Regions from separate parts of the Homo sapiens genome. Here all the other regions are reported to be linked to region 3. Evidence: microRNA targets listed by miRTarBase, many of them from high-throughput screens and not tested one by one. Region 3 holds a microRNA gene; each other region holds the end of a gene's coding sequence.
Evidence for each region. The annotated mature microRNA hsa-miR-3129-5p reads GCAGUAGUGUAGAGAUUGGUUU and lies in region 3 at 5,772-5,793, shown strand. An mRNA with a match to its seed (bases 2 to 7 or 8) in the 3' UTR can be bound and repressed. Matches are read on the target gene's strand: a 7mer-m8 pairs with bases 2 to 8, a 7mer-A1 pairs with bases 2 to 7 and ends in A, and an 8mer does both.

Region 1: the mRNA of MCCC2 is a reported target of hsa-miR-3129-5p. Seed matches in the 3' UTR shown: 8mer at 3,902-3,909 and 7mer-A1 at 4,205-4,211.
Region 2: miRTarBase lists TMED5 as a target of hsa-miR-3129-5p. Seed matches in the 3' UTR shown: 7mer-m8 at 4,745-4,751 and 8mer at 7,174-7,181.

Annotation. Positions count from the first base shown.
Region 1 is chr5:71,653,748-71,665,079 of GRCh38, forward strand. It overlaps MCCC2 (methylcrotonyl-CoA carboxylase subunit 2), which reads left to right. Exons shown (of 17, transcript NM_022132.5): 17 at 2,996-4,959. The coding sequence ends at 3,113. Among named protein-coding and RNA genes, the nearest start is that of CARTPT, 60 kb to the right of the region's middle.
Region 2 is chr1:93,146,144-93,157,475 of GRCh38, reverse strand. It overlaps TMED5 (transmembrane p24 trafficking protein 5), which reads left to right. Exons shown (of 4, transcript NM_016040.5): 3 at 993-1,176; 4 at 2,588-7,734. The coding sequence ends at 2,806. Among named protein-coding and RNA genes, the nearest start is that of TMED5, 29 kb to the left of the region's middle. RefSeq lists a silencer at 10,727-10,927.
Region 3 is chr2:189,127,543-189,138,874 of GRCh38, reverse strand. It overlaps MIR3129 (microRNA 3129), which reads left to right and starts at 5,764; the gene lies at 5,764-5,839. The region is part of intron 1 of COL5A2 (collagen type V alpha 2 chain); the gene reads left to right.

The DNA of each region.
Region 1 (11,332 bases), not on the chromosome of region 3:
GGCTGAGGCAAGCAGATCAGTTGAACCTGGGAGGTCAAGGCTGCAGTGAGCCGAGATCATGCCACTGTGCTCCAACCTGGGTGACAGAACAAGGCCCTATCTCAAAAAAAAAAAAAAAAAGCAAAAGTTAGAGTCCATTACAATCATTTGAATGGTTCCTTGGTGGATACAAAGACAAAACATACTGATTTTCAAGAACATAATTAGTTTGAGGAGATAAATAATACCATTTGGGTGTGTGTATGTGTTTTTGTTTTTGTTTTCTTTAAAGACAGAGTCTCACTCTGTTGCCCAGTTTGGAGTGCAGTGACGTGATCTCAGCTCACTGCAATCTCTGCCTCCCGGACTCAAGCAATCCTCTTGCGTCGGCCTCCAAAGCTGGGACTACAGACATGTGCCACCACACCTGGCTAATTTTTTTGTATTTTTTGTAGAGATGGGGTTTCACCATGTTGGCCAGGCTGGTCTTGAATGCCTGAGCTCAAGTGATCCTGCCTCGGCCTCCCAAAGTGCTTGGATTACAGGCGTGAGCCACCTGTAATCGTGGCTGGCCAATATTTGGGAATTTTTAAAGGTTTTTTGCTGAATATATATTTTTACAAACAAATTTACAGGTATATTTTATTGTGGTGGTTTGATTCATTTAATTAAGAACAAAATATTTTATAGTCTTTGAGAGCTAAACATGTTCCTGATTTTATCATCGTGTAAACAGACATATAGTAGCCAGTAAATGGAAAGAAGCAATAGAAAGCCGTATAAGAGGTTTGAGATGAAATATAAAATATATATTGTTAAGCTTTTCTATAGTTTTTTTTTTCCACATAAGATTTTGACTGAAATACACAGGGACAGCTGAAATATTAAAGTTTGAAAAATTGTGTATTTTGTGTGAGCTGTTAGCTTGTTTTTCAGCCCTGGCTAAGATAAATCATCTCTTGAGAAAGATTGCATCTTTTATTATTTTCATACTAACATTATTATTATTTTTTAATGGATTACATTCAAGGCAGAAGAGTAAATGGCCCAGAGAGACTTATCTTTGGAAATAAATGTTAACAGACAGTAAAGTTTTCTGTGGATCTGTAGATTTTTTTTTTTTTTTTTTGAGACAGAGTTTCTTGTTGCCCAGGCTGGAGTGCAATGGCATGATCTCGGCTCACTGCAACTTCCGCCTCCTGGGTTCAAGGGATTCTCCTGCCTCAGCCTCCCGAGTAGCTGGGATTACAGGCGTGTGCCACCACGCCTGGCTAATTTTGTATTTTTAATAGAGATGGGGTTTCTCCATGTTGGTCAGGCTTGTCTCGAACTCCCAACCTCAGGTGATCCACCCGCCTCGGCTTCCCAAAGTACTGGGATTACAGGCATGAGCCACTGCACCTGGCCAGATCTGTAGATGTTTAACCCTTCTGTTGAAACAGCTGGTGGCATGGAGACAGCAGCTTTCTTTCAAAGCTGAAAGGATTTCCAAGCCAGTTTATGGTACCTTCCTTGGGTTTAGTAAATCTCAGCTTCACAGTAAAATTCCCTGGCCTGCTTAGGTTTGAACATGGCTAGATCTGTCTTTTCAGAGACAGAGCTTGTTATTATCAGTTACTGAAACCTACAATGTTTTCCTTAATCCTAATAGGTTACATATGTAGCGTGCCAATTTGCTTCTGCTCAGTTGTTTTTATAATCAAACTTTTATCCGGCATTTCATTAGTGCCTCTTACCTGGGGCAGTCTTTTTAATGAACATTATTAAGCAGCCCCTTCATCACCATGCTTGCTGTGCTGCAGGCTTCAGAGGGAGTGTAATCAATTCACCTGGTTGCAGATGACAAGAGTGGCTTTCTTTTTATTGGGTGTTGATACTTTAGGGTCCCTATTATGAATGTTTTATGAGCAAAGGTTTGATTCATGTCTGTCAATGTAAGAATGGTTTAATAGTTGATGCCAGGTTCAGATACCGAAGGGAGTTTATATAAAAAAAGCAAACTGCCACCTACTAATAACCTTTAAAAAGTAATATTTCTCAGTCATTTTTCGTTATACATTTGAGGTTGTCAATGAGAAGGAAACTAAAATTTCTACTTAAAAGTTTCTTCTGCAAGCAGTTTAAAGTTATTGTTTTTCCTATTGTAGCAAAAAATAAAGACCTACATTTGAAGGTATCTATTTTATTAATAAAATGTACTGAAGCTGGCCGGGTGTGGTGGCTCACGCCTGTAATCGCAGCACTTTGGGAGGCTGAGGTGGGCGGATCACCTGAGGTCAGGAGTTCAAAACTGGCCTGGCCAACATGGCGAAACCCCGTCTCTTCTACAAATACAAAAATTAGCCAAGTGTGGTAGCGCACTCCTGTAATACCAGCTGCTAGGGAGGCTGAGGCAGGAGAATTGCTTGAACCCAGAGGGCGGAGATTGCAGTGAACTGAGATCGTGCCACTGCACTGCACTCCAGCCTGGGTGACAGAGCGAGACTCCATCTCAAAAATAATAATAATAATAAATAAGATAAAATGTACTGAAGCCTATTCAATAATTTTCATAGTTTCTTAAGAGTTTGGATGGGGGTTGGGGAATATACATTTTCCAGTAAAGTTTGAGGTTATTACCTGGGTATATGTGGTTCTGCATATTAATGACAGAATACACCAACTTGGCTTATATATTTGTGTGGGAAGAAAAGGAATAGGAAAATTTTTCCTGAAATAAGTAAACGTATTGTCAAATTAGGGGTTACTTTGAGATCTCTTATAAAAGTAGTTCCTTAAGCCTTAAGCCTGACATGACATTCTGTGGTGGCCTGGGATGAAGGTCATATCATTTTTTTCCACGTTTTCCCCCTCTGTCTTGAACGTAGTTTCTGTTGTGAGATTATGGTACATGGATGCTAATCAGTAGATCCATATATTACCTGAAGGAAAACTTCCTTGGCATTTCTGCACATGGAGAGTGTATAAATGGTAGTTTGGTGGTAAATTCATAACTCTTTTTTTGTTCTTTTGTCAGGGTATGGGATGATGGGATCATTGATCCAGCAGACACCAGACTGGTCTTGGGTCTCAGTTTTAGTGCAGCCCTCAACGCACCAATAGAGAAGACTGACTTCGGTATCTTCAGGATGTAACTGGAATAAAGGATGTTTTCTGTTGGACATGTACTGAAAATTAACACATGTAGTAGCCTTAAAATTTTAGACTTCTCGAACATGAGGCTGTTACAGTAATTTTTTTAACACTGTGCATTGTACTTTTCTACCTTAAAAAAATCAGTGAGGATATTTATTTAATGAACATCAATTCCTTTTAAATTTTCTTAGAGAAATTTCTCTGTGGCTCAGTTTTACCACCCATAAAGCGGAGACAGTAATTTACGGTTATCCTTTCTGACCCACAAAGTATGAAAAGTTCTGTAATCTGTAAACTCAGTTCTGTAATCTGTATTATTGAGATGATTAATATAAAGTTGTATTTTCACTGAAATGATTGTTTTGCTGGTTATGCTTGGTGATATTTTAGCGGGCTTATTTTTGAAAGGCATCTGTTACTTCAGTGGCATAAAGTGCCCTCACACTGCTGTGCAGCCATCACCACCATTCATCTCCAGAATTTGTTCTCAGTCCCAAACTGAAACTATACCATTCAAACAACAGCGCTCCCCATTTCCCCCTCCCCCGAGCCCATGACATCTCCTTATTATTATTTTTTTTTTGAGACAGGGTGTTTCTCTGTTGCCCAGGCTGGAGTGCGGTGGTGTGATCTCGGCTCACTGCAGCTTCCACCTCCCGGGTTCAAGCGATTCTTGTGCCTCAGCCTCCCAAGCAGCTGGGACTATAGGCACGCACCACCACACCCAGCTAAGTTCTGTATTTTTAGCAGAGACGGGATTTCACTAGGTTGCCCAGGCTGGTCTCAAACTACTGACCTCAAGTGATCCACCCGCCTCGGCCTCCCAAAGTGCTGGGATTACAGGTGTGAGCCACCGCGCCTGACCACATCTCCTTATTCTTAAATGTATGTGTTTCTCATGGTTTGATTTATTCTTGCTGGGCCATTTCAGCCCCTGTCATGGCTTCACTCGCCATCTAAATGCAGATGATTACTGCCTTGACGGTTCTTAACCCAGCTCTCCCCTGAGCTGCAGGCCTGCATATCCAGTAGGTCTACTGGACATCTGTACTGGTTGTTGTGGAGGAACCTCTGGCTTGCTCATTAAGTCCTACTGATTTTCACTATCCCCTGAATTTCCCCACTTATTTTTGTCTTTCACTATCGCAGGCCTTAGAAGAGGTCTACCTGCCTCCAGTCTTACCTAGTCCAGTCTACCCCCTGGAGTTAGAATGGCCATCCTGAAGTGAAAAGTAATGTCAGATTACTCCCTTCAGTGATTTCTTGTAGAAGTGCCAATCCCTGAATGCCACCAAGATCTTAATCTTCACATCTTTAATCTTATCTCTTTGACTCCTCTTTACACCGGAGAACGGCTCCAGCTGTTCTAGCTCTCTTTCAGTTCTTTGAACCTTCCCACCTTAGGGTCTATAAGGTTCCCTCTGCCCAAATTGTTCTACTCTCCCTTCTTCTTCAACACATCCTTCAGTTTAAGCACTTGCTTCTCTCAGTTTAAACTCCACTTCCTTAGGGATGTCTCTGTGACCTCCCTGTGCTGGATTAGCTTCCCTACTCTATGCTCTTGTAAAACACTATCTACTTCCTTTGTCATAAACTCATCATTTTCCTATAAACATTAATATTGTCCTCCTGCTAGAATGTAAGCTCCGTGAGAGCAAGGATCCTCCTGTTTACCCTGTACCTCCAATGTCTGGCACTTGTAGGTGCTCAAATATTCGTTGAATGAATGAAAAATCCATATTGTAATTGATGTCCTCTGGCCACATAGTTTTAAAATTAGGTGATTGATTATATGACCGAATAGAACTATCAAATGTTTTCCTAATAAAGTCAATATTTCAAACATTTGTGTGTGATATTTAGTATTTTAAACATTTGTGTGTGATGTTCAATGTGTACCAGGAAGTCAATTTAGTTTTTGTGGGGAGAATATAGATAGATGATCAAATTCAGTGGTAGGTTACATTTTCAGAAGCAATACATTAAGTATATTAAAATAGTAATATTAAAATTTTAATGAAAATGCACATCTATGTCAAAATGATTTTCTATATAAAGACTAGGTAATATTCCTTTGGTAGGAACCATTAACAAGTCAAGGATTCATGGATATTTTAGGACTGCTTTTGCTTTTCTGGGAAGAAACTGTCCATCAATAAAACCACATTTAAGTGAATTGGATTTTTTAAAACTTATTTTTCTAGAGGCAGGGTCTTGCTATGTTGCCCAGGCTGGACTCGAACTCCTAGGCTCAAGCAATCCTCCTGCTTCAGCCTCCCAAGTAGCTGGGACTACAAGCTTGCACCACTACGCCTTGCTCTATTTTGTATATTTTACCCAACAATAAACATTTATAATTGTCTTACCAAAATAGGTAATACTTTTTAAACATTTTGACTATCATAAATATGAATTCCAGCAAGGATAATATGAGCTACTTGGAATTTGAAGAAATATACAAGTTAGTCTCTAAATTTGCCCCTGTTGGTACTTAAAGAATGAAAAAGACAAGATTACTTCTATTTTTCAGTTTATAAGAAAAGTATTTTCAAATCGAATTTGTTAAAAAAAAAAAAACACTTCTGCACCAGCAGAAGGCACTATTGAGTGTTTGAGTGACACCATCATTTGCCAACATGCTTATGTGTATGTCTCTCCAGAGAGAGGCCATATGTTTCCTTCACAGGGATAAATCAAAGCAGGTTTTGGAATGATACATTAATAAGATTATTTTTGAGAGGCCACATTAGTTCTAAAATGCATTGAGTTTGGTTTTATGGAAGATTAAATCTCCACTAAGAGTCTTGGCGATTTTTTTTTTCTTAGTGATCTTCTAATGATTGGTTCTGAAGTTTCATATATGGAAAAATGGCAAGAAGATGAACTAGGTTATCATAGCCTAGTGTCATTCATAACATTTCCCTTAAAATGTTACAATTAAGTACAATTAATATTTAATGATGACATAGATTTTAATCATTTTCGACAAAACGTTTTGTGCCTTTCCACTAAACGCTTAAAAATAGTTTGTTTCAGCGGGGCACCCTGGCTTAACACCTGTAATCCCAGCACTTTAGGAGGGTGAGGCAGGAGGATTGCTTGAGCCCAGTGGTTGGAGAACAGCCTGGGCAACATAGCAAGACCCTGTCTCTACTTAATAAATAAATAAATAGGTAAATAAATAAATAGTGCTTTTATTTTATGTGCTTCAAATTCTCTTGTATCTGGAATCAGGATCCTGAGGACTAAGTTTTTCTTAGGGATGAATGAAATTTCTATGCCCCTTTTACCTTTCTAGGCAAATGTACATTCCATCAAGTTGACTGTGTAACTTACCATCCACATTGGGGCTTTTGAGAGTGAGAAAAAGGGGGTCTTAATAATAACTACACTGGGAAACAGGTCTGAACTGGGACCGACTCATCCCAGTTTGAACTGGGATGTGTGCTCGCTGCCTGTAACATCATCATGACTGAATACTTTGTTTGCATATCAGCTTTTGAAAATTCTTAGAAGCCTTCGCTCAAGATACCTGCTTCATGACTTTCAATATAGATTTCAGTATGATACCAGTCACATAATATGTGTGCATTAGCATTCTAGGGAGTCATTTAATTGACCCTAGAGGAGAGTTTACCATAGGGCAGGGATGATTTTGTTTCCCAGCTGTTAGTTTTCTGAGATCAGTGGTTCAATATGTCTGGCAGCTTTGTCTTTCACAAACCAAGTCACATGTTTGTGCTACTTTTTAGGGTAAGCAAGAGAAGTATTTTTCAGGGAGAATAAGGTCTTAGAAGGTGATGATTTCACAGAGAAGTTATCGCAAGGAAAATATACCCAGAACCAGATGTTAGAAGTAAGCTGGAGTAGAAAAAAAAATTTTTTTTTTTTGAGTCAGGGTCTCGCTCCAGTGCCCAGGCTGGAGTGCAGTGGCGTGATCTTGGCTCACTACAGCCTCTACCCCTTGGGCTCAAGTGATCCTCTCACCTCAGCCTCCTGAGTAGCTGGGACTCGGGCACATGCCATCACGTCCGGCTAATTTTTGTATTTTGTAATTTTTGTGTTAGCAGAGATGTGTTTTCGCCGTGTTGCCCAGGCTGGCTTCAAACTCCTGGACTCAAGTGACCCGTCTGCCTTGGCCTCCAAAAGTGCTGGAATTATAGGCATGAACCATTGTGCTCAACCAAGAAAAACAATTTTTTTAAGTGTAATTCAGTAAGTGTTGATTGTAAGAAGTGAACTCAGAAGAAAAACAGGTAGAATTTTAGAATACTCAGACTAATTTTAAACGTTCCTGTAGAAAATGTATTCAACATTTTTCAGCCACAGCACTGTTAATGACATTCCTTTATCTACCGGATAATTAGAAATAATTTTTGTCTTAAAGTTATTTGTAATCTAAAAATCTAACAATGTTACTTGCGGAAAATTTAGGAAGACAAAGTGAAGAAAATAAAGTGAAAAAAAAGCTTCATAATCTCACTACCTAGAGATAACTGCTATTAATATTTTTCGTGTACTAGTCTTTTTCTATCTTTACGAATTTTTTTTTTTTTGCAAAAATGCTGTGTGCTACATGTTATTCTGTAATCTGCATTTCACTTAATGTATTGTAAATATAATGACCTGTTTACATGAAATTTAATATTCTGCAAATTTTTTTCTTTTTTGAGATGGAATCTCACTCTGTTACCCAGGCTGGAGTGCAGTGGCATGATCTCGGCTCACTGCAACCTCCGCCTCCGGGGTTCAAGTGATTCTCCTGCCTCAGCTTCCTGAGTAGCTAGGACTACAGGCGCGCGTCACGACACCCAGCTAATTTTTGTATTTTTAGTAGAGACGGGGTTTCACCATGTTGGCCAGGCTGGTCTCGAACTCCTGACCTCAGGTGATCCACCCACTTTGGCCTCCCAAAGTGCTGGAATTACAGGTGTGAGTCACCGCACCCAGCCTAATATTCTGCAATAACTCTGATGTTGCACGATAATGCAGTGCATGAATCCTCCCTTTGATTTAACTACTCCCCTATTGTTGTACCTGTAGGTTTTTTCTGGTTTCCCACATTACAGATAATGCTGCAGTGAACATCTGTTTAGTTTCTTTACATATCTGTGATTATTAGGATACATTTTTAGCAATAGTGTTGTTGGATAAAAGTGTACAGGTTAAAGTATACACAGACCTTTAAGACTTGTTGGTAAGTTTTGCTCTATAAGTGTATATTATGGTATTTATTGCTGGATGTAATGGTTACCGTGGTGTTTTTAGATACAGAAATAGCTTCCCATAGAATTAAATTGTTTAGCAGAAACCAATGTTTTCTTTCATTGTTAAAAGTTGTGTCTAGGCTGGGGCATGGTGGTTCATGCCTGTAATCCCAGCACATTGGGAGGCCAAGGCAGGCAGATCGCGCGAGCCCAGGAGTTTGAGACCAACCTGGGCAACATGGTGAAACCCTGTCTCTACAAAAAAATAAAAATAAAAAATTAGCTAGGCATGCTAGTGTGTGCCTGTAGTCCCAGCTACTCAGAAGGCTGAGGTGGGAGGATCACTTGAGCCCGGGAGGCCAAGGCTGCAGTGAACTGTGATCGTGCCACTGCACCCCAGCCTGGGCAACAGAGCGAGACCCTGTCTCAAAAAAAAAAAAAAGCTGTGTCTAAGTGACCATGTCACATTAGCAACGAGTTGTGAAGACTGAGCATTAATGCATGGGAGGTCACGGTCGTGGAGAGAACACTGGGCGGGGTGTGGACCGGTTTCGCTCTAGTTCAGCTACTAACGCGCTGTATGAACCTGAGGAGGATGGGAGGGGATTAAAATCAGCCTTTCTGGCCCAGTGATTGTTTTCCTTCCCTCCTTCTACATGCCTAAGTCTTTTCTCCACCTCTCCAGATTCCCTCTTTCTCTGCTAGTGGATGGCTAGGGAAGGTGGGCCGAGGGGTGAGGACTGGAGGGAAGGGTAGATAGGGTATGCTGAGAGCCTTTTTTATTCCACAGGAAAGCATGTACCTCAGGGCTCGGTGGGACTCATGGTGGCAATCATTTACCAGGAAGACCCATTCTCCAGTTGGTCACAGCTTGTTTTGTTCAAATGAGCATACATTTACCGAGGGCTCACTATGTGTCGGGCTTCGGGATGGTACACAAAGATAAGAAGACGTGGCTCCTGGCCTGGTGCAGTATCTGGTCAGTGACTTGAGGGTTATCTTCAGCCTCTTGGTACCCCTCTGTCTTCTTTTGGTAACTGTACTTTCATTCTCTTTGGGAACTACCCCTCTCCTGTTCTGCACAGTCTTGGCCAGTGTGGCAAGCAAAGAGCCCTGGACACCAAGGGCTGGACACATGTTGAGGCTTGGCCAGGTGGACTCTCTCAAGTGCTTTGACTCATTAGCAGAGAGACAAAGATGGAAGACGAATGACACTGAGTTCAAGTAGACCTGAAGAAGCTGTTCGTTCACTCACCTCTGCTCCAGGGTCCCTGGCACAACCCTGATTACTGAGAATCTGTGAGTCAGAGGCATCTGTATCCTTCCAACAATCTTATTTATTGATTTATTTAGGAGAGTCATGTTTCAATGCTTGTAGCAACCAACCCTACCTGGCAACATGTTCTTCTGCAAGCCAGAGGTTACAGTAAGTCACTCTATGTTTTCAAACTTGGTGAAAGAACGATGGTATAGACAGAAGAGTAAACTGAGAATTTTGGTCCTCAAATACACAGAACATTCAAAGGAGGAGGGTTGTGGCTTCTCACCACCATCCCCAGTGAGGATGGATTGAATGTTTATTTTTTAAATGTAAATTAGTTAATGATTGATTGAGACAGGGGCTTGCTCTGTCATCCAGGCTGGAATGCAGTGACATGATCATAGCTCACTGCAGCCTTAAACTCCTGGGCTCCAGGGATCCTGCCATCCAGCCTCCTGAGTAGCTTACAGGCATGCGCCGCCATGTGGGGCTTCTGGATCAAGGGTTTAAATCGTCACAAGGGCAACTCAATTTATTGCAATGTTTTGATCACTGAAATATGTCACTGAGCAAGATGTTAGGTTACTTTTAATTGGAAATCTGGCTAAAAATCTGAAAGTCTACCACTGGGGATAGTTTAAAGACAATCATACCAGGAGACAGAATGTAGTGACTTCTTGGGTAGTCTTAAGTGGCTTTTGTATAGCCTTAAGGCCACAGTGATGGTCTTATGAATGATAAACGAATTGTTGCCCAGGCTGGTCTTGAACTCCTGAGGTCAAGTGATCCGCCAACCTCAGCCTCCCACAGTGCTAGAAGCGACTGCGTCCAGCCCAGAATGTGCATTGCTAACAAGTTTTCACCTGACACTGATGCTGCTGGTCTGGGGATCATGCTCTGAGAACCACCACTCTCAATGATCTCTAAATTCCTTCCTAGCTCCAAAATGTTAGGATCCTAAGATAAATTTCTGCTTTGTGATATTATCATTCTTGCATATTTGCTAGGTAATTGTACATTTCTCTCCCCCATTTTCAGGGAAGGGTGAGTTTGTATTAACTTCTCGGTAAGTAGGTGTTCTTTTAGATCAGTGATTCACAGCCCAGACTGCACATTAGAATCACTTGAGAAACTTTGAGTAAGAAAAATCCTGACCAGGTGCAGTGACTCACGCCTATAATCCCAGCACTTTGGGAGGCCGGATTGGGGGGCGCGGATCATGAGGTCAGGAGATTGAGACCATCCTGGCCAACATGGTGAAACCCCGTTTCTACTAAAAATATGAAAATCAGCTGGGTGTGGTGGCGCATGCCTGTAATCCCAGCTACTTGGGAGGCTGAGGCATGAGAATCGCTTGAACCCAGGAGGCGGAGGTTGCAGTGAGCTGAGATCATGTCACTGCACTCCAGCCTGGTGACAGAGCAAGAAATCTGCCTCAAAAAAAAAAAAAAAAGGAAGAAAAAGAAAAAATCCTGAGGCCCTGGCTGCATGCCAGGTGAACTAAACAGACCTGTTCAGGTTAGGACCCAGGTATCAGTAGTTTTTAAAACACTCTCAAGTGACTCTGATGTGCAGTCAAAGCTGAGAATCACTTCACAGAGGAAGGCTAGATCAGTAGATTTCAAAATGGGCACTGTTCATTTCAAGACACTTTCATGAATTTAAAATCTTAAATTTTACATTGTGTACAGTTTTTCCTGATAGAGCTCACAGCGCAGATAAAAGTTGGCCTTATTTTGGTTTCTTGACC
Region 2 (11,332 bases), not on the chromosome of region 3:
TTGTAGGTATGAGCCACCGCACCTGGCCCTGCTTTTAACTTTCGCTAATATGGGAAACTAATTTTAACTAGGGTACTGGTAATTCAGATATTATTCATTTTTTTCTTCAGCACTTGGCATAATTAATGATGGGCTGAATTACCTTTATAGAATTAAATAATAAAATATAAACTAGTTTTATTTAATTCTCAAAAAAAGCATTTAGGATCAAACATAAACATCTATAAGGGAGCCAGTGGCAGTTAATAGGCAAAATCAGTAAGAGGCCTGGAAGAAGACATTTAGGACAATCCATCACTGCTTTTGAAAACAAAACTCAGTTTAATCTCAGTTGTAGGGTAGGTTGGCAGTCATATCTGCATATGAATTGAACTCATGATAAAATACTTTTAATAATGTATAAATATTAAAGTTTATTATGAGTTATGTATACAGGTTTTTAATTCTATCCTTTTCCAAAAATGAGGTCACTAACCATAATTTACTGAGTAAATGCCAAACATGTCTAAGTTGTACTTGAACATATATATTTTCAGGTTGCTTCTTTCCCAAGAAATTATAAATTATCTTTCAATACTAAGGAAATTTATGGGTAAGCTGTCCAATTACTATAAACTATGTTATTTGTTTTTTGTTTTGTTGGTTTCTTTTTTTTTTTTTTTTTTTTTGAGACAGGATCTTGCTCTGTTGCCCAGGCTGGAGTGCAGTGGCATGATCATGCCTCACTGCATCTTCAACCTTCCGGGCTCAAGCAATCCTCACACTCTGCTAATTTTTGTTATTTTTTTGTAGAGACAGGATTTTGCCATGTTACCCAGGCTGGTCTCAAACTCCTGAGCTAAAGTGATCTACCAGCCTTGCCCTCTCAAAATGCTGGGATTACAGGTGTGAGGCAACACACTCAGCCTGTTACTTCTTATTTTTACCTTTAGTTGCTTTTCATCACAAATAGAAATACAGGTAACTTAAAACATGTACTTTTTTTTATACAGTGTAGAGACTGAAGTTGGTGATTACATGTTCTGCTTTGACAATACATTCAGCACCATTTCTGAGAAGGTGATTTTCTTTGAATTAATCCTGGATAATATGGGAGAACAGGCACAAGAACAAGAAGATTGGAAGAAATATATTACTGGCACAGATATATTGGATATGAAACTGGAAGACATCCTGGTCAGTATGGTCTTCTAATAAAATAAAAATTATTAACAGCCAGAGGCCTTACTATGGTAATAAGTTACTGAACTAAGCATTTTATCTGCATTATCCAGGAAAATCTGTTTCTAATATTTTATTTTTGCCATAAATACTTTGACCTCAAGTATCAGCTTAATTTTATTTTATATTAATATAGCCCTTTTATAGTTTTCAAATAACTTATCTTCCAGGACCCTATTATAAAAATAGCTTCAGATGTGCAAATAAGACTGCATCTTGGTAAGTTTGTTTTATAAATGTGCAGTTAGAATTTTTAAATTATAAATAGATTATGCTTCTGATTATACAGCAGGCATATGAAAAGTAAAATGTTTTCTAATTTCACAACTATTTTGTGGTATTAAAACATTGGGTGTTTTACTGAATACTAAATTGTTCAGATAAACATACAAAGAAGGAAATATTATAAACACATGCATTATGTAATAGGTAAATACCTAAAGTTATATCAATTGGGTTTTTAAAAATGAAATCATTTGCCAGGCATGGTAGCAGGTACCTGTAATCCCAGCTACTCAGAAGGTTAGGGGGAGGATCATTTGAGCCCAGTTCAAGGCTGCAGTGAACCATGGTCACACATATAAATAGATACTACACTCCAATATAGCAAGACCCCATCTCTAAAAACTTAATCATTTGACCAGGCACAGTCTCAGGTTGCAATGAGCCGAGATTGTGCCTAGGCAAACTCCATCCCCCGACAAAAAAAAAAAAAAAAAAAACCTTAGTCATTTCCTTTGGTTGTGTGAGGACTAAGAAAGAGATAATGTACGTAAAACTCCTGATGCTATGCCACTCAGAATAATTTCATGTTACCTATTTTCAATTCACAGTAGCTTTGTTCCCTTGTTAAATAACTACTTATAAACAATATAAATATGTCAGGAGAACTATTATATAACCTTACAGAGAATCTCTAATGTAATATAAATAGTACCTGCCCTTTAATTGAATTGTGCAGCCATCTAACTTAAAATTGTGTTTGGATAAAAAACATAAAGCATATTTTGAAAAAAACTTTTTTTGAGACAGGGTCTCACTCACTCTGTTGCCCAGGCTGGAGTGCAGTGGCACCATTATGGCTCATTGCAATCTCAACCTCCTGGACTCAAGTGATCCCCCCACCTCAGCCTCCCAAGTAGCTGGGACCACACTTGGTGCTACCATACCCATCTTTTTGTAGAGGCAGAGTCTGTCTGTGTTGTCCAGCCCAGTCTTGAACTCCTGGGTTCAAGGGGTCCTCCTGCCCTAGTCTCCCAAAGTTCCAGGATTACAAGGCATGAGTCACTGCACCCAGCCTCATTTTTTAATTAAGTTAAAATTTCTGAGCATTCTTTAATAATAAAATTATTTTATTTATCTCCAGGAATCCATCAACAGCATCAAGTCCAGACTAAGCAAAAGTGGGCACATACAAACTCTGCTTAGAGCATTTGAAGCTCGTGATCGAAACATACAAGAAAGCAACTTTGATAGAGTCAATTTCTGGTCTATGGTTAATTTAGTGGTCATGGTGGTGGTGTCAGCCATTCAAGTTTATATGCTGAAGAGTCTGTTTGAAGATAAGAGGAAAAGTAGAACTTAAAACTCCAAACTAGAGTACGTAACATTGAAAAATGAGGCATAAAAATGCAATAAACTGTTACAGTCAAGACCATTAATGGTCTTCTCCAAAATATTTTGAGATATAAAAGTAGGAAACAGGTATAATTTTAATGTGAAAATTAAGTCTTCACTTTCTGTGCAAGTAATCCTGCTGATCCAGTTGTACTTAAGTGTGTAACAGGAATATTTTGCAGAATATAGGTTTAACTGAATGAAGCCATATTAATAACTGCATTTTCCTAACTTTGAAAAATTTTGCAAATGTCTTAGGTGATTTAAATAAATGAGTATTGGGCCTAATTGCAACACCAGTCTGTTTTTAACAGGTTCTATTACCCAGAACTTTTTTGTAAATGCGGCAGTTACAAATTAACTGTGGAAGTTTTCAGTTTTAAGTTATAAATCACCTGAGAATTACCTAATGATGGATTGAATAAATCTTTAGACTACAAAAGCCCAACTTTTCTCTATTTACATATGCATCTCTCCTATAATGTAAATAGAATAATAGCTTTGAAATACAATTAGGTTTTTGAGATTTTTATAACCAAATACATTTCAGTGTAACATATTAGCAGAAAGCATTAGTCTTTGTACTTTGCTTACATTCCCAAAAGCTGACATTTTCACGATTCTTAAAAACACAAAGTTACACTTACTAAAATTAGGACATGTTTTCTCTTTGAAATGAAGAATATAGTTTAAAAGCTTCCTCCTCCATAGGGACACATTTTCTCTAACCCTTAACTAAAGTGTAGGATTTTAAAATTAAATGTGAGGTAAAATAAGTTTATTTTTAATAGTATCTGTCAAGTTAATATCTGTCAACAGTTAATAATCATGTTATGTTAATTTTAACATGATTGCTGACTTGGATAATTCATTATTACCAGCAGTTATGAAGGAAATATTGCTAAAATGATCTGGGCCTACCATAAATAAATATCTCCTTTTCTGAGCTCTAAGAATTATCAGAAACAGGAAAGAATTTAGAAAAACTTGAGAAAACCTAATCCAAAATAAAATTCACTTAAGTAGAACTATAAATAAATATCTAGAATCTGACTGGCTCATCATGACATCCTACTCATAACATAAATCAAAGGAGATGATTAATTTCCAGTTAGCTGGAAGAAACTTTGGCTGTAGGTTTTTATTTTCTACAAGAATTCTGGTTTGAATTATTTTTGTAAGCAGGTACATTTTATAAAATGTAAGCCCTACTGTAAGGTTTAGCACTGGGTGTACATATTTATTAAAAATTTTTATTATAACAACTTTTATTAAAATGGCCTTTCTGAACACTTTATTTATTGATGTTGAAGTAAGGATTAGAAACATAGACTCCCAAGTTTTAAACACCTAAATGTGAATAACCCATATATACAACAAAGTTTCTGCCATCTAGCTTTTTGAAGTCTATGGGGGTCTTACTCAAGTACTAGTAATTTAACTTCATCATGAATGAACTATAATTTTTAAGTTATGCCCATTTATAACGTTGTTTATGACTACATTGTGAGTTAGAAACAAACTTAAAATTTGGGGTATAGAACCCCTCAACAGGTTAGTAATGCTGGAATTCTTGATGAGCAATAATGATAACCAGAGAGTGATTTCATTTACACTCATAGTAGTATAAAAAGAGATACATTTCCCTCTTAGGCCCCTGGGAGAAGAGCAGCTTAGATTTCCCTACTGGCAAGGTTTTTAAAAATGAGGTAAATGCCGTATATGATCAATTACCTTAATTGGCCAAGAAAATGCTTCAGGTGTCTAGGGGTATCCTCTGCAACACTTGCAGAACAAAGGTCAATAAGATCCTTGCCTATGAATACCCCTCCCTTTTGCGCTGTTAAATTTGCAATGAGAAGCAAATTTACAGTACCATAACTAATAAAGCAGGGTACAGATATAAACTACTGCATCTTTTCTATAAAACTGTGATTAAGAATTCTACCTCTCCTGTATGGCTGTTACTGTACTGTACTCTCTGACTCCTTACCTAACAATGAATTTGTTACATAATCTTCTACATGTATGATTTGTGCCACTGATCTTAAACCTATGATTCAGTAACTTCTTACCATATAAAAACGATAATTGCTTTATTTGGAAAAGAATTTAGGAATACTAAGGACAATTATTTTTATAGACAAAGTAAAAAGACAGATATTTAAGAGGCATAACCAAAAAAGCAAAACTTGTAAACAGAGTAAAAATCTTTAATATTTCTAAAGACATACTGTTTATCTGCTTCATATGCTTTTTTTAATTTCACTATTCCATTTCTAAATTAAAGTTATGCTAAATTGAGTAAGCTGTTTATCACTTAACAGCTCATTTTGTCTTTTTCAATATACAAATTTTAAAAATACTACAATATTTAACTAAGGCCCAACCGATTTCCATAATGTAGCAGTTACCGTGTTCACCTCACACTAAGGCCTAGAGTTTGCTCTGATATGCATTTGGATGATTAATGTTATGCTGTTCTTTCATGTGAATGTCAAGACATGGAGGGTGTTTGTAATTTTATGGTAAAATTAATCCTTCTTACACATAATGGTGTCTTAAAATTGACAAAAAATGAGCACTTACAATTGTATGTCTCCTCAAATGAAAATTCTTTATCTGAAATTTTAAAAGACATTGATTCCACATGTAAGGATTTTTCATCTGAAGTACAATAATGCACAATCAGTGTTGCTCAAACTGCTTTATACTTATAAACAGCCATCTTAAATAAGCAACGTATTGTGAGTACTGATATGTATATAATAAAAATTATCAAAGAAAATTAACTGCCAGTCATTTGTAAATGCTGTCTACTCCTGAAAGCCTTCCTTCATCTCTATTTAGTTAATAATGTGCTCTCTCCTCCTGTTTTGAAACCCCATAGCTCTCTACACCTCTTATTGTACATCACTCTACTTTGCATTGGAGTTCTGTTTCTATATGTACTTATTCACCTGTTGCCTAAACATGCACTGTTCCTAAAAGGTACAGTTTTTGCTCAAAATATATGAAAGGAAAGATAATCAGTTCTTAAAGTTTGGTATGCTAAATAAGCACCCAGGGAACTTACCTGCTCCACCTCACCCCAGAAATTGATTATTCAGGTCTGGAATATGGCTCAGGATTCTTAATTTTCAACCAACACAATATAGAATCCTGTCAGTTATCCTTGGATCATTTGCTAAGTGATCTTGCAAAATCAAAACTCCTTTGAGACTATTTCATTTTCAGAAATATTTTAAAACTTGTTCAGAAACATCTTAAAACTTGTTAGCATATAGGAAAAGTACAATGCTTGGTGTAGGTAGGTTATTATTTGGTCATTTCCCTCAAACCATCCAGACAAGCCACTCTTCTACCACAAGCTGGTAGAAATCCTTAGGCACCTTTCTGCTTCTGCACTGCTATCACTTTCAGGTGTCTAAGGCTTCTGGAAGGCTGTTGTCATAACCTGGAGCCATACACCTAATGTACGTCTGGGGAAAGGACACCAATTAAAGAATCTAGAGCTAGGATGATGTTACATAAGACAGGGCACAATGGAGATGGACTCTGGATCCCTGCATCTGAAAGAAAAAGGCAAGAAAATGCAGGGCAGGGAAAATCCTGAAGGTCTTCACTGACCATGAATTAAAATCCTAATTGACAGTTTTACAAACAAAAACCCTCGTTTTAGTACTTGTGTTGTTTTTGTTTCTGTTTTAACAAGCTTAGATTTATTATTGTGCCTTTTATGGAAGATGAGGAAGAAATAGGAAAGCAGTAAAATGAACAATGAGAATCTGTTACCCAAACTGATATAAACTCCCTCAGAAAGAAAGATACTACTCCCTAATCCTGGAAGTGTTAAGTGGCAATAATGATCAAATGTTGTAAAGGGGATTGTTACTACAGCTAATATGAAATGGGAGGCTGGACTAAATCTAACCTTTCTACCCTTGATTTCAATTCTAAAAGGACACGTAATACCATTGCAGAAAGAAAAGACAGTTCCAAATGATAAATTTTAGAGTTGTTTTGCTAGGATGCAAGAGAAATTGGATAAGTGGACCACTCATACGTTGCTGGTGAGATATGAAATAGTAGAGCCACTGTGGAAAATATTCTTGGCAGTTTCTTATAAAACTAAACATACATTTAACATATAACTGGCATTTGTACTACTTGACAGTTATCCCTGAGAAGTTAAAACTTAACATTCACAAATGTTACATAGCACCTTCATTTATAATAGCCAAAACCCGGAAACAACCTGGATGTCCTTCAAAAAGAGTGAATGGTTTAGTATGTCCACACCATGGAATACTAAATAGTAATATGAAGGAACAAACTACTGATACATGTAACAAATTGCATGGACCTCAAGGGAATTATGCTTGGGTGGTTTGGGGGGACAATCCTAAAGTTTTACACACTGTATGATTCTGTTTTTGTAACATTCTTAAATAATAAAGCTATAGAGATGGGAAACAAGATTCGTGGTTGCCAGGTCTTGGGACTGAAGGGAAGGAGAATGTGGCTATAAAGGGAGCCTTGTGGTGGAAAAGTTCTGTAGTTTGATTGTGGTGATTACATAAATATACATGTGAAATGTTAGAAGTATTTATAGCTGAAACATATTAGTATGTTGGTATATACATATTTCTGACTAATTAATTTCGCCATGTTGCCCAGGCTGGTCTCGAACTCCTAAGCTCAAGTGATGTGCCCGCCTCAACTTCCCAAGTGCTGAGATTACAGGCGTGAGCCACCATGTCCGGCCTGTTTTTTCCTATGCATGCATAATTACGATCAAGTTTAATTTGTAATTAGGCACATTAAGAGATTAACAATAGCTAACAAAATGGAACAATTACAACAATATATTGTAATAAAAGTTATGCAAATGTGGTTTCTCTCTCTCAAAATATCTTGTACTCACCCTTGTGAGGCTGTGAGATGTCATACAATGCCTACATGAAGAGATGAAATGAGGTGACTGATGTAGGTATAAGTGATGTAGTTAGGCTACATTATCATCAAAATAACTTCGGGTAATCCTGGATCACTGAGCCAAGGTAATGTTGATGGTTAAGGAGCAGACAATGTTGATGGTTGGGGATCCTCAATAGGTGAAGGATTTCTATTTTGGGGTCTTTTTGCTGAAAAATTTTGGAAGAACACTGTAACCAGAAGTTGTTGACTCTTCAGCTCATCGAAGTGTTGCTGCAGAGACTGTAATCCTTTGGTGATCATATTGGTAACTTTAATGCTGTGTCTCATCTGAGGATCGTATTCTATAATTCTGTTGTTTAATGTCTGTGCAATTCAAAACACTTCGGCAAGTTTAATTAATGTCTATGTTGGCTATTCTGCTTCAGTTTTTTTAATCTTCCTCTCCCTCTGCAGATGACTCAAAAATTTCTTCCAATTCCTCATTTGTTAACACTTCGTGATGGCCTTTGATATGCTCTTCATCAAGCACATCAGCAAATCCTTCACAAGTTCTGTGAAGGATTGTCTTGTCTTGCTACATGATTTAAACTTGCCATGGGTCCCTAGGAAGCCTTTAAATCATATATATAATTCCACATTCTTCCAGCAGGTATTTACCTGTTTCTGGTTTTAATTCATCCACTGCAGCTTTGATGAATGTTATCACATGAGCAATAGTGAATGATATCCAGCACTGCATTATATACGTATTAGGGTCTGCAGCAATTGCTGACCAAATGTGTTCAAATATCAGGCAGTTGTATGTGGCCCTGACAAACCGAATGATGCCCTGTTCAGGGACTGAAGCAGTGAGGTTTTATCTGGAGGTAAAAATACCACCTCAACATTTTCATTTTCATAGCAGACAGATTCATGTATTGTCCATTATTAATACTTTAAATTCTAACCCTTTCTCTTTCAAGTATTTTTGCACTTCTGGGATGAAGCACTGGTGGAACCATTCCATAAAAATGGCTGTCACCCACACTGATTATGTTGCCAAGACACATAATATTTTGTTTTGTTTTCGAGATCATGTAGGTTCTTCACTCTATACACTACACCTCGCTTTATCATATGCCCTGCAGCAATGCCATATAGTACCAGAGTTAATCTGTTCTTCCATGCTGTATGCCCTGATACCGCCGCATTTGCACTTTTATGAATCTAAGTTCTATTGGGCATCTTCTCCCAGAAGAGCCTGATGTCACTGCAATTGAAGACTTGCTTTGAATGGTATCCTTGCTCCTTAACTTCAACTCTGCCGGAAATGAGGCAGCAGCTTCTTCATCAACAGACACAGCCTCTTCAGTAATTCTTAAATACTTCAGTCCAAACCCATTCCTGAATCTGTGTAACCATCCCTTATTTGCAGCAAATGGCTTGGTATCACTCATTTCAGGAGATCCCTTGCTGAATGTTTGTATAGGCTCAGTGCTTTCGCGGCAACACCCTGACGTCAGCTGGAACACATTTCTTTCTGTTCGTGTCTTCCACCCACAAATTTAACCCATTTATACCGGAGGTTGCAAAATCTGTGAAAAATCAGACCTTGGCAATGACCTTGAGCAGCAGGATATAAATAACTCTCACAAGCTTAACGTTCCAATAATAAAACACTAGGCATAAATGGGCTAATGCCTTTTTCATCTTAAAACTAGCACGAATGTTTTTTCTTCACAATTTCATGAAGATCTGTTCTTACCTTAGATCTTACCAATCTCTGCATATAATTTTCTTCTCAAGTACTTTCACCTTTTCAGTTTATGACTTAATGACTTATCTTTGGCATATCCAATTGCCATCATCTCTACACTTATACCTTGGGGCCACAATAAAGTAAAATAAGGGTTACCTGAACACAAGCACTACAATACTGCAATAGTTGATAGGATAACCAAGATTATTAAGTGTCTAATGGTAGGTAGCATATACAGCATGGATAGGCTGGACAAGGGGATGACTCTTGTGTGAGATTTCATTACGCTACTCAGAATGGCATGCAACTTAACACTTGAATCCACAGACAAGAGGTGACTACTGTAATGTCTTTGAAAATGCTAGGCCCTCAAATATTGAGTGACACGCTCATTCTTGACTCCAGGCCTTATTCTGCTCCTTCATGTTGAAACTAGATTTTCTCTTATGTAGCCTCTATTCAAGCTAACCCATCCTTCAAGGTAAAACCTAACAAATATTGCAGTCCAGATCAATCTCATTTCTCCAGCAATACAGCACATATTTTGATACCTGTAGTCATCTACTGTTTTCAAATGTTACTTAACAATTACGCTTATGTCCTAACTCTCCAAGACTGTACTATTATACTATAAACAATACTTTCACCACCACCCCCCCAAATTCCACCTCCTTGATTTTATGCTATAAAATACACTATCCTATTTTTGCCAGTTAAGATCCTATCATCCTTCAAAGCCTAATTCAAATAGAATTAATTCCCTTTCAATAAGTCTTTCCCTTGGTATCTTTCTTAGGCTTACTCTAAATGTCAATGGAACTTTGTACCGATACTCCATAGTAATTATCAATTTCAACTCAAATTTAGTTTATTTATGTCTATCTTCCATAATTTAAGAACTCAGAGGCAGGCTCCTAATCTTTCCTCTATCTCTTCACAGCAACTCATAGGCATTCAAAACATGATTGCTGAATTTGAATAAACACTTAATACAACCACACAGAATTTTACATCTCAACCACTTTCAGAAAAACTAAAGCATAAAAGAAAAAATCCTGTAATACTATAGTGAGTTGACTTGTGTCCCCCCGAAAAAGATATATCCAAGTCCTAACTCCCAGTATCTGTCATCGTAACCTTATTTGGAAACAGGGTCTTTGCACATGTAATTAAATATCTCCAGATAAGATCACCCTGCATTTAGAATGGGCCCCAAATCCAATGACTGTTGCCCTATAAGAAAAGGAGAGGAAGATTGGAAATAGGGGAATGCCTCATAAAGATGGAGGCAGAAATTGGACTTATATGTCCAAGAATTACCAGCTGCAACCAGAAACAATAACAGGCATGGAAGGGATTCTCCCTCAGAGTATCCAGAAGGAACCAACCTTGACACAAACTCAGTTTTAGACTTCTAGCCTCTAGAACTCTGACGAACTGCTGCTATTTTATGCTGCCAAGTTTTTGGCAACTTGTAGCAGCTCTAGGAAATTAAAACAAAGGCCTCAATAGCAGAGCCCCAGAAAAAATTTTTTAGAAATAATAGCAATAATGAAGTTAAGAAATAAACATTTCTGAGTTTTATTTAATGAAAACCATACTTTGCCTGTACTTATGATGAACAGGATTTTGATTATAAAGCAGTGACTCATTTTATGTTGTTCAGCGCAACCTCTTAAAATGTCTTGTGTTAAAAGTATATTTTTAAAATGTTAAACCAAAGCTTTTACCACATTGACTATTCTCTCTCTCTTGCTGTGTGTACGTACACACACACACACACACACACAAACACTTTTTTTTTGAGACAGAGTC
Region 3 (11,332 bases):
CTCATAGATATTTATTTTACATTTTTGGTGATATTTGAATGCTACTTTGCTTATTTTATTTGTCAAACTGTTTCAGTTTTGGCCACTGGAAAGTCTTTCAGTTGTATTCTGTGTCCCTTTGATATATCCCCATCATGTGGGCTTTTTTGTGTGTATGTACTTTTTTACTTTCGGTTACTATAAGATGTTCTAGGTTCGTTTTGTATATTTATTGGCCCAGTCCTAGAATCAGCTGTTTATTCAAAGAGCTCTTGTTCCTTATATTGGAGAATGCTATCAGAAACCACAATCTGGGACCTAGGTGTGTTCATTGCTACTTGGGAGTTGTTGCTTCTGTGTTCTGTCAGCTGACAGAGCAAGGAAATATATATGTGTGTACTAATAGTTGTATATACAAATATCTATATATATTTCAATTAAGCATGTATGAGTTAATATTTGGAAGCAGAGACAGTAGAATCGCCTGAGAAGAAATCTGAGCATTTCTTCTCAGATTTTTCCTATATGTGATATATAAACAGAAGCAAATCAAGACATATTAATAAGTAAGATAAGGGTAGAGCTAGACAGAGGCTGGAAATAATACCTTAAAAATATACCGGGCCGGGTGCATTGGCTCACACCTGTAATCCCAGCACTTTGGGAGGCCGAGGAGGGTGGATCACAAGGTCAGGAGTTCGAGATCAGCCTGGCCAACATGGTGCAACCCTGTCTCTACTAAAAAATACAAAAATTAGCTGGGCATTGTGGCATGCACCTGTAATCCCAGCTACTCAGGAGGCTGAGGCAGGAGAATTGCTTGAACCTGGGAGGCAGAGGTTGCAGTGAGCCGACATCATGCCACTGCACTCCAGCCTGGGTGACTGAGCAAGACTCCATTTTATATATGTATATCCTAAACCTGGAGTCCTCAACTGGATTAGGCCCACACAGATATTTTCCTGGGCTCAAACAGTGCTTTGAAAAACTATTAGAATTACATCATTAACATCAAACAATTGAGAGATGTCAAACACAAATATTGATTTCTATCTTCTCTTTAAAATTTGCCAGGTCTGAGAAATCCTAGGCACACATCATTTATGCACCCATCACCTTGTGCTGAATGGTGGTTCAAGCCTTCATGAGTATTGCACAAGCCCCAGTTCAACAGCCCATCTACCCATCCCCCGCCCCCAACTCACTGTCTTCTGCACAGTTAGAAGCTAGCTCAGGTTCTAGTCCATGTGCTGCTGTTTTTTCTATTGTAGAGGAGAAAGGAAAATATTTCCTGGATCCATGGCTAACAAATTAATAAGATAAGAAAAAGCATTTTCCTCTAAGTGAAAAGTATCATTTTTTGTTTAATACACAATGTGTGACTACATCAAAAGAATATTACTTAAAATTTCAGTACAAAATCAACCCAGCTCACCAAATTTGGATTTCTCTAATCCTGTGTTCTTCAATAGTGATCAGAACATAAGTCTTCCTTCTTGCTACTTGTACAAAATGACTTCATCAAGTAACATGAGCCAATACAGAATTTGGATTTAGGCGTGGCCTTGATATATATGTTATTATTAGATTTCAAAACTTCAGAAGACATCTCTCATGTAAGAGTAGGACTTCATTTTCTGTGATAATTTTATACCTCTTGTCATTTCCTATAAAAGACCAATGATAATTCACTCAAGATCCATAAATCACATTCTATTGCTATATTTAATGTATTATGTTTGTGTTTTTGCTTGAAGAGATTGGTCCAGTTAGTTTTATTCAGAATAAACACGAACGAAGAAAACATTTGTTAACTGTAGATTAATAATTGTAATTATAGAACCTATAATATAGATTTCTACTACACTAAAGAGATGGAATTTAGATTCAGCATTTTATTTGACATTTGGCTTCTATTTTTCAAAATGATGAATATTATCAGACAATAAAAAGTTTGGGCCATCAGCAGTTAAAATGAAAATAAAGTTCAGATTGTAAGTAGCTGAAAGTGAAGCAAGTTTATAGCTTGCCATGTTTTACTAACTGAACCAAACTAAATATATTTGGCAAGACAATGTACTTGTGGCAAGAAAATGGAAAAAAGCAGTGTGATTACTTGAATAAGGTTGAATTTAGGTCTAATTCCAAGTATTAAAAATAAATGTAAGATAAAATATAATAACTATTATAAAATATAACATTAAAAAGTATAGAAAGATCAGGTTTGGAAATTTGACTATCTCTTTTCCCCACTCTCCATATCATTGTATTATTGTTAGCATCATAAAATTTCATAGTGTTTATGTCTGTCTGTGTAAACATACAAACACAAGATTTCTCCATTGTTATACATGTATGATATTTTTATATACATATATATTTATAAAAAAGAAAAAATATACAGATGCCAAATGTGAGTGTATATATAACTACCTCCTAGTTAACCTGTGTAACCACACCTGTGTAAAAGAAAATATCTATATCCTCAATACACACATATGAAGCTTTTACATATATATAAGTATATACATATATAAGCATATATATAAATATGTATTTATATACATGTAAATTTGTACTCAGGTATTTTTGTGTACATAGCAGTAAGGTTTTCATTAGAAGATGCTGATTAGCTCACTGGAAACTTTCTGGTTTGCAGAATAATATGTTGTCTTTTTATACACAAATTAATTTCCTATGAACATGTGTAGCATAGATTAGCATTAAAAATTAATCTGATAAATACAAGGTGACTTAACTATTAAGTTTCTGCACTTTCAGTGCTGAGAAAACAGAGCTTTAGTCAGGCCTAGCTCAGTAAGTCCCATCCCACTCGCAATCATTTTATTCTAACACCTCCCTGAACATAGCCCATCCAGGGAATAAATGTGACTGGTGGACCTCTTTCTCTGCTGATCCTCCTTACTGATGAAAGGTTTACACCTGCAATAACACTCTCTTGTTTCAAATCCAGGGCCTATCACTTATGAGGGATGGGAGTTGCTGTGAGCTACTGTTGGTTGCCTCATGGGAATGATACTGTTTATTGAGGATTAAGTGAGATCAAGAATATAAAACAGTTAGGACAATATATAGCACATATTAAGTATTCAATGAATGTAAGCTTCTATTGCTGCCTCTCCTATTACCACTATTATAGCTACTACCAATTTAAACAAAATCCTTTTAAACTGAATGATCTTTTAATATCTCTTATAAAATATGTGTTCTTTTTCATTAATCTGGAGATTTCCTAAATGTGTAGATATAAGCATAGTGTTTGCAACTACTTGAAGCCAAAACAATTGAAAGACATTAGCCTACGGATTATGAATGATAAACTGCCATGTGGAGTATTATCTTTTGTTCTTCAGTTCACTGTTTGTAACCAATATTTATGACACAGAGAAGTAGGATTTGTCAGAAATCATTGCAGTACTTCATTTTCAAGCTTAGGCAGTATTTCTTTTACCAGATATGTACTCTGCAGATTCATAGAGCGTTCAAAGCCCATGTGTTACTCTTAATAACTCACAACTGACTGTGTGGCAATATTTTCTCATAAAATATCTCCATTATAAATTATGTATTACTTAAATATCCAGGTTAGGAAGAAAAAAGTTGCTAATAGGGTTGAGGTAATAGTCCAGTAATCCATGAGCATCTGTGGTAGGTTCTGTTTTTATAATTTGGTTGTTTTGAATTAGAATGTATATGGTTTTAAATTAAGCCAGTCATTTTTTATTATTTGACTACAGCCATGATGTAAGCTGAAATGGAAAATAGGAATAGAAAGATAACAAGAAGAAAAGTTGTGACTTGAATTGAAGATTTATTACATATGTTATATGTAGTCCAGCCAACCCAACGTTATGAGCTGGAGATATGAATACTATCCTTAAAGGCAAGATAACTTTTCAAAACTTTAAAATTAATGCCTTGTATAACTTCTCAGTCTGTACTAATTTCATGTGGTTAATAAGGCATGCAGAAGCTAATGTTGTTACTAATGAAAAATTAATTGGGATTAGAAGAAATTTCATTTTCTAAATAATAAAAACTGATTGTCCACCCTATTTTCCTGATTTTAGCCAAGCTTAAGAGATGTATGTGCAACTCTTTTGAATGGCATTTATGACATAACTTGTTTCATTTTCCTGAAATTTGCCCTTGGTTTGTTGTTTGCTGACCCTCAAATTCCAGGAAGGCATTTTCATGTAGGATTTTTTTATTCTATGAGTTCATCAATTTTGAATTTGCTTTATGCAAAACTGTTGACAATGATGTACTTTCTAAAATTTATTTCTGAGATGGAGTCTCACTCTATTTCCCAGGCTGGAGTGCAGTGGCGCAATCTTGACTCACTGCAACCTCCGCCATCCGAGTTCAAGCGATTCTCCTACCTCAGCCTCCCGAGTAGCTGGGATTACAGGCACGTGCCACCACACCTGGCTAATTTTTGTATTTTTAGTGGAGACGGGGTTTCGCCATTTGGCTAGGCTGGTCTGGAACTCCTGACCTCAGGTGATCCACCTGCCTTGGCCTCCCAAAGTGCTGGGATTACAGGTGTGAGCCACCACATCCAGCTGATAATGATGTACTTTAAAAATAGAGTCTAGCAAATTGCCAAAAGGTTATATTTATATTGCCAACTACCTTAGAGGAATTTTCAGGCTTAGATTATAACTAACTCTGTAAAGGCCAGCTGGCTGGTGAGAATGCATAAGGTTCTGCATGACTGGCTTTAATACAGAATGGAGGGCAAGTATACCAATAACTCTCAGAGTGGGATGAAGAGGATGACAGATCTAACAACCTGTATTGATTCCAAAGAAATCAATCAGCATATCATTTTTAGTATTTTTTTCTTTTTTGTTGGTGAAAGAAGAGCTTTCATAAAGGGTCAAGCAATTCTGTATGGCTGTGTCCTCCCTGGACTGCATGGTCATTTTCAAGCAGAGGGTGTGGCAGCGATTTCATGTATGTCTTCCCAATCCTTCACTCAGAAATAAACACCTGAAGGAAAACTAAAATAGTCATTCAGAGCAGGATATGGTGCTTTAAAAATCTTTTTCTTGTGTGAAACATAACTTCTGAACTCCTCTGATTCTGTCATTAACACTTGGTTGGTGAAGTGGTCTCTCTAGCTTCTTTTTCTAGCTTCCCCTCTGTCGTAAGGATGGACCCTTCTCAATTTACATTAGGCCCAGAGTAATGAACACCTAACTGGCTTGCTGCATGGAATCTTTCCCTGCTGCCTGACGCTCTTAGTTCATTCCGTTGTCTCAGAAGATTCAGTCTTCCTTTTTCCATTTCGCAGCTCAACAAAGGAAAAGACTTCATGCCATCCCTATCACTATCAACCAAGTAAATGCAATGCTGTTAGTTGATGTTCAAGATGTCTGATTAAAGGCAGCCAACACCCTCTGGCATGTATTCCACAAGAAGTTCTTTCTTTCATAAAGAAGTTGAATAGGCTGGGTGTGGTGGCTCACGCTTGTAATCCCAGCACTTGTTGGGGGGCCGCGGTGGGTGGATTACGCAGTCAAGAGATCGAGATCATCCTGGCCAACATGGTGAAACCCCGTCTCTACTAAAAATACAAAAAATTAGCCAGGCGTGGTGGCAGGTGGTGTAGTCCCAGCTACTCGAGAGGCTGAGGCAGGAGAATCACTTGAACCCGGGAGGTGGAGGTTGCAGCGAGCCGAGATTGCGCCACTGCATTCCAGCCTGCCGACAGAGCAAGACTCGGTCTCAAAAAAAAAAAAAAAAAAAAAAAAAGTCGTACTTGGGCAGTAGTGTAGAGATTGGTTTGCCTGTTAATGAATTCAAACTAATCTCTACACTGCTGCCCAAGAGCATTCTATATTCAACTTCTTTATCTCTGAGAAATTGCTTATATCTCCCCAACTGTTATTTCCAGAACACTCAGCCAGGGAACACTCAATTAATATTGTTTTATTAATTTTTTTTTTGAGATGGAGTCTTGCTCTGTTATCCAGGCTGGAGTGCAGTGGTGCGATCTCAGCTCGCTGCAATCTCTGCCTCCTGGATTCAAGCGATTCTCCTGCCTCAGCCTCCCGAGTAGCTGGGACAACAGGTGTGCACTACCACACCCAGATAATTTTTGTATTTTTAGTAGAGACGGGGTTTCACCATGTTGGCCAGGCTGGTCTCAAACTCCTGACCTTGAGTGATCCACCCACCTCGGCTTTCCAAAGTGCTGGGATTACAGGCGTAAGCTACTGAACCCAGCCTGTTTTATTAATTTTGACAATAAATGAGATGAATTGTTAAAAACTACATTGAATGCATCTTTTTTTCTTATACATTGTGATTTGGTTATTTGAATTTCACTCATTGTTTTTCAATACTATTCTTCTTTTCCAAAGATATTAAAGATACTTGACTTAAATAAAAGTACATTCAAATTATTATAAAGTTAAGATAGTTTTTACTTAATATCTGCAGCCAGGACTAATAAGTCTATGCAGCTCCCTTAAATACACAAAGTTCATTTCCTCTGTTTTAACAGAAATTAAAAGAAAAACGTAAAATCAGGTTTGTAACCTTTCCAAAAACAAGTTCCCTTTTTTCTTCTCTGATTTTCTGAAGTTGTCTGTACCAAAATGATACTGTTATTTAGGAATGTTGATGTGGTAGGAAACTTCTACTTATGTCTCTAAAAACCAGACCATGATTACGTATCATAAAAATAGATGCAAAACGTGGCTATTCTGGCCACTTGAGGTCAGAGAACTTTGCCATGACTATGTTTAATTACATGTCCATACAACTCAATGACTTATTTTTTCAAAGAACAGACATTTTAATACAAGACAATCAAAATATGAACCTCAGTGGATGAATTAATAGATACCTTATAATCAAAATCTGTCAGCCTCTGAATTAACCCAAAGTTCAGTATTCACATTTTATCAATTATATTACATAGAATTGCCTTGTTTGAAATATTTAGGTATTCTTATGAGAAATACATAATTACTAATTTACACGTATAATTTCTTTTTCTCCTCTAATTTGTTTTAACAAGTATGAGAGGTAAATTTAGCTAAAAATTATGTATATGGATGAAGAAATTCTCTTAGAGGAACTCTAAAACTAATTGAATCATACTTGATATATTTGTTCTTTTCAACAATTCAGTTTTTTAATGCATATTTCATTAGGGTACCATCAATGTGTTTTCCTGAAGCCTAATTACACAAAAAATTATCACATATTTTCCCTCCTTCGGGTCCAGACAGAGCTGTTATTGAGCTCCAGGCCTAGTTGCTGTTTTTGCTCAAAGAGATTTTCAATGTCCAATGGCATCTCAAAGTAAACCTTGGACCCTAAATTTTTTGTCCAATAACATATCCTGATTGTCTGTGGTCTCTTAAGACTATCTAATTCATTAAGACATTTTTTTCACCCAAGAAATTAAACAAATGTTAAATTTTCTCAGCGAATTTCATATTTTCGTGAAATTTTTACAATGGCTTGAGCAGTTTAAGAAGAAAAAAACCTTTTTGATGCTTTGCATTTTATTTGCTGGGAAATTACCTAGGCAAAGAAACTTATTGTTCCATTTTATGAACTTTACAATTCACTTAGCTGTCAAAGTTATTTCCGGTAACCCAAGAAAGAACTTGATACCACTTTTTATGATGACAGGACTTAAAGATGACATTTATTCCAATAAGAATCGTCATTTGAAAATACTATGTTATTTCCCTCAGGTCTCTGCTCAAATTCTACTTTATTTGTGAGCTTGTCCCTGATTATTCAAAATTAAGCTCAGTCCCCGCTCTCCTCTCAATTCACTTTTCTCCTGGAGCTCTTTGTCTTTACCTTGCTGAATTTTTGGTAACACTTCTTGCTACTAGACATATTGTATGGTTAGTAAGTATAATATTTGCTTATTTCCTGTTTCTTTCCACTAGAGTATAAGCTCTTTAAGGACTAAATCTTTTCTGTCTGTTAACACTTATATTTCTAACATTGATATGGTGCCTAAGATATAGAAGGTAGTCAATAATGTGTTGAATAAATAAAAATAAATATATTAAGCATTTGTGATGTGACTTGGGCTTTATAAACTAAATTTTTCACAGGCACTTGTGTAAAAGGTAGGTTTGTAGACTGGTTTATACTCTAATATTTCATTTGTAAAATGGAATGGAAACTTATCTGTGTAGAAGAGATACTAGATGCTAGCTAGATCTGTTTGAAATCTTTTCAGAGCCAAGGTGGCTATTTAAATATGGTGGCAATACTCTGATTTTATTTCCTCATTTCCCTTTTAGTTCATGTGGCTACAGTGAAGACCCACTATGTCCTAGATCCCTTGCTAGGTGTAAGGGGTACAGCTATGAACAACACATAGATACCCTGCTTCAGTGGAGAGTAGCCTAGCTATTAAAGCAAAAATTAGGAATAAATATGATGAGTGTCTTTACAAGTAAATGCCCTTTTAAATTGAGCACATATTAGGTGCTCAAAAATCATTGTTAAATAAATCAGTAAATAAATTTGTAAAGAGGCTGTATATCAAAACTCAAATCCTGACACTTACTTCTAGAAGTCTATTTCATAGACTCACCTCTTAAAATATCTCAGTGACTAAAAGGATTTGGAGTAAATAGTCTAAAAGCATACTCATAGGTTCTAACCACAAAATACTTCCATCTTCCCACAAATTACTAAAGGAAGGAAAATTCTCATGTGAAATTAGACAAGACTGTTTCTTTCAGAAATAAAAGTATTCAGGAATGTGTTTGTCCGTTGCCCTATCACCACAATCCAGGGCAGTGTCTGGCATGGAGAAGACAGAAAACGCATTTTTGTTGAATCAAACTGAAGGAATATAAGGAGGGAAAAAGATTTTAGTTCTATGGCCAAAAAGATTTCTAGAATATCACAATACAGACATTTTTAGCTAACTATTAATTTATTTCATCTTCCTTTGCTTCAAGGTCACATATGCTCATATAATTTATAACTGCTGCAGGCAGAACCATTAAGAGAGCACAATTTCAAACAAGTGTAAGCCACATGAGGGCATAAACTTTATATTACGGTAAACCTCCCACCACACAGTCTTTAATGTAGCTGCATAATATGTGTATTTGGTAAATGGCTGAATTATAATCCAACCTCTTCCCCTAAATCTTAACATGGATGAAGTTTAAATGGATGTATGATACAGATAAGTTGCTCTTCAATTCCTAATTTGAAAATGATTTCCTAAATCATACACTATAACTTGTCCCTTTTGAAATCAAATAGGTGATTTACAAAAGTAAATGTCACCTAGTACCTAGTAGCTTTTGCACGTAAAAGAGAGATTTTAAAAGATGAGAAAAAAGGAAATTTGACATAAAATTATTATTTTATTTACACCATTTTCTCTTCATTTCTGAATAATTCAAGGAATGTCCCAGAATCATCTCTCAAAATAGAAGCTTGAAAAATCCTCATTGAAAAATCAGTTTTCAAACATTTTACATATTTCATATTGAAAAACATGGATTTTCAGATTTCTTTAGCAAATCATTTATGGGCTGGGCCCCTTTTAGTGAAATGTAAGGAGTTTTTCCTGCCAATTTATAAAAGCATAGAAAAACAGGCTGAAGACACAGCTGACAGCCTTTCGGCTTTAGTATCGCTAGCCATCTGTTTTCTATAAGGTAGTTGTTTTTTCTTGTTAAGTTCCCCGTGTGAAATGTTTTTCTTTTTTTTTTTATTTTTGGTTTGTGAATTCTACCCAGTGATAAAACTCACCAGGGGACCATAAAGGCACAAATGGAATCTGGGAGAACTTTGAGACTTCTTATATTCACACCAGAATCTCACTTTACTAATCTAAATCAGAGACTTTTTTCCATGGAGATTTGTTACCGAAATACCAGAGTCCTAATTGATTAAAGCAATTTTAATTCAAGAGGGTTTTTGCCTTACAACAGATGATTATTGAGAGAGATTTCAGGTTTATGATAGTTTTCGGTGATAAACTTTCCTAAGGACGCAAGTGCCCCATTTAGCTTTTCTCTGTTATTATAAGGAAGAAGCAGAAGATATAGTCTTCTCTAACAGCTGGACGTAAGGAAGGAAAGGTGCCTAATTGGGAATGATCATTCTAAAGAACAACAGTTTTCTTGTTGCACATCATTGGAATGCTTATTGTGAGGACGATAGTAATTATTTCTGAATCTGGCATCAAAATACTAGAGATGCTTCTAAAAAATACAAGTTTCCAGTTTCAAAACAAAATCAGAGTCACTAGAAGTAGGGCCTAGGAATCAGTATTTTAAAAAATTCTCTGAGCGATTCTGATGCAAAGCCAGGTTTGAGGAGCACCAACTTAAAAGAAAATCAAGGCTGAAATTAAAAAGAAAAAAACAAAAAACAACAAACTCTTCAATATGAGGGATACACAGCATTTAAAATCACAAACTACATATAATTTTTATGAAACTGATTTTGGATAAAATATTTGAATTACAGAAGAGCTGAAAGATCATAAATATATGGTTACAAAAATAACCTGAAGCTTTGGATGGCTTGGAAAGATAATTACTGGGATTTGCCTCCCAATTCTGCAAGCAAAATACCACCTACTTTTTACAAACATAACTAGCAAGGTATGTATGGGTTATATTGGCAGAAGTCACAAAACATACTTCAATGGCTTAAAATGCCTCTTGTCAAGGTGCCTTATAATTAGCTTCAAAAGCCTTCCAGCTGTGATTCCATTAAATACAGGTGTATTGCTGTGGGCAGCTACATCAGGTACTGTGGCATTAATAGGCTCAACTAATTGCTGCAGTGGATTTGTGCAGTATTATATGCTTACTCAGAAAAATTTATCTTGCCCTCTTTCCTACACTTACCATTTCTGTTCTTGAAATCTGAGTGCACTTCTGTTTTATGACCTTATTTATATAGACAGACTTGACCTCAGGGCGTTTTGTGGAAGAAGCAGCACTCCTTCACTGTGATCATAGCCTTATATAAATGGATTTTTGTCAATATAATGTAGATTTTTCTCTCCTGCTGCATCCTACTCCAGATTCTGATAGGCCCTATAAGGAGGAGACAGGTGAGCATGACTCTACATTTGATACACATGTAAATGGATTTGAATCAGGCAAGAGAAATCTGGGAACCTCTGTGCTAAATAATAATGGTTTGTGTCTAAATAACACATACTTATTTTTCAAAGCACTCTCACATCTATTTGATTCTCAGAACAACCTTGGGAAGGGGGTATATTATCCCTATTTTTTAGGTGAAAATACATGACAATCAAAGAAATTGTAATTTGTCAAGTGTTACATAGCAAGTAGTT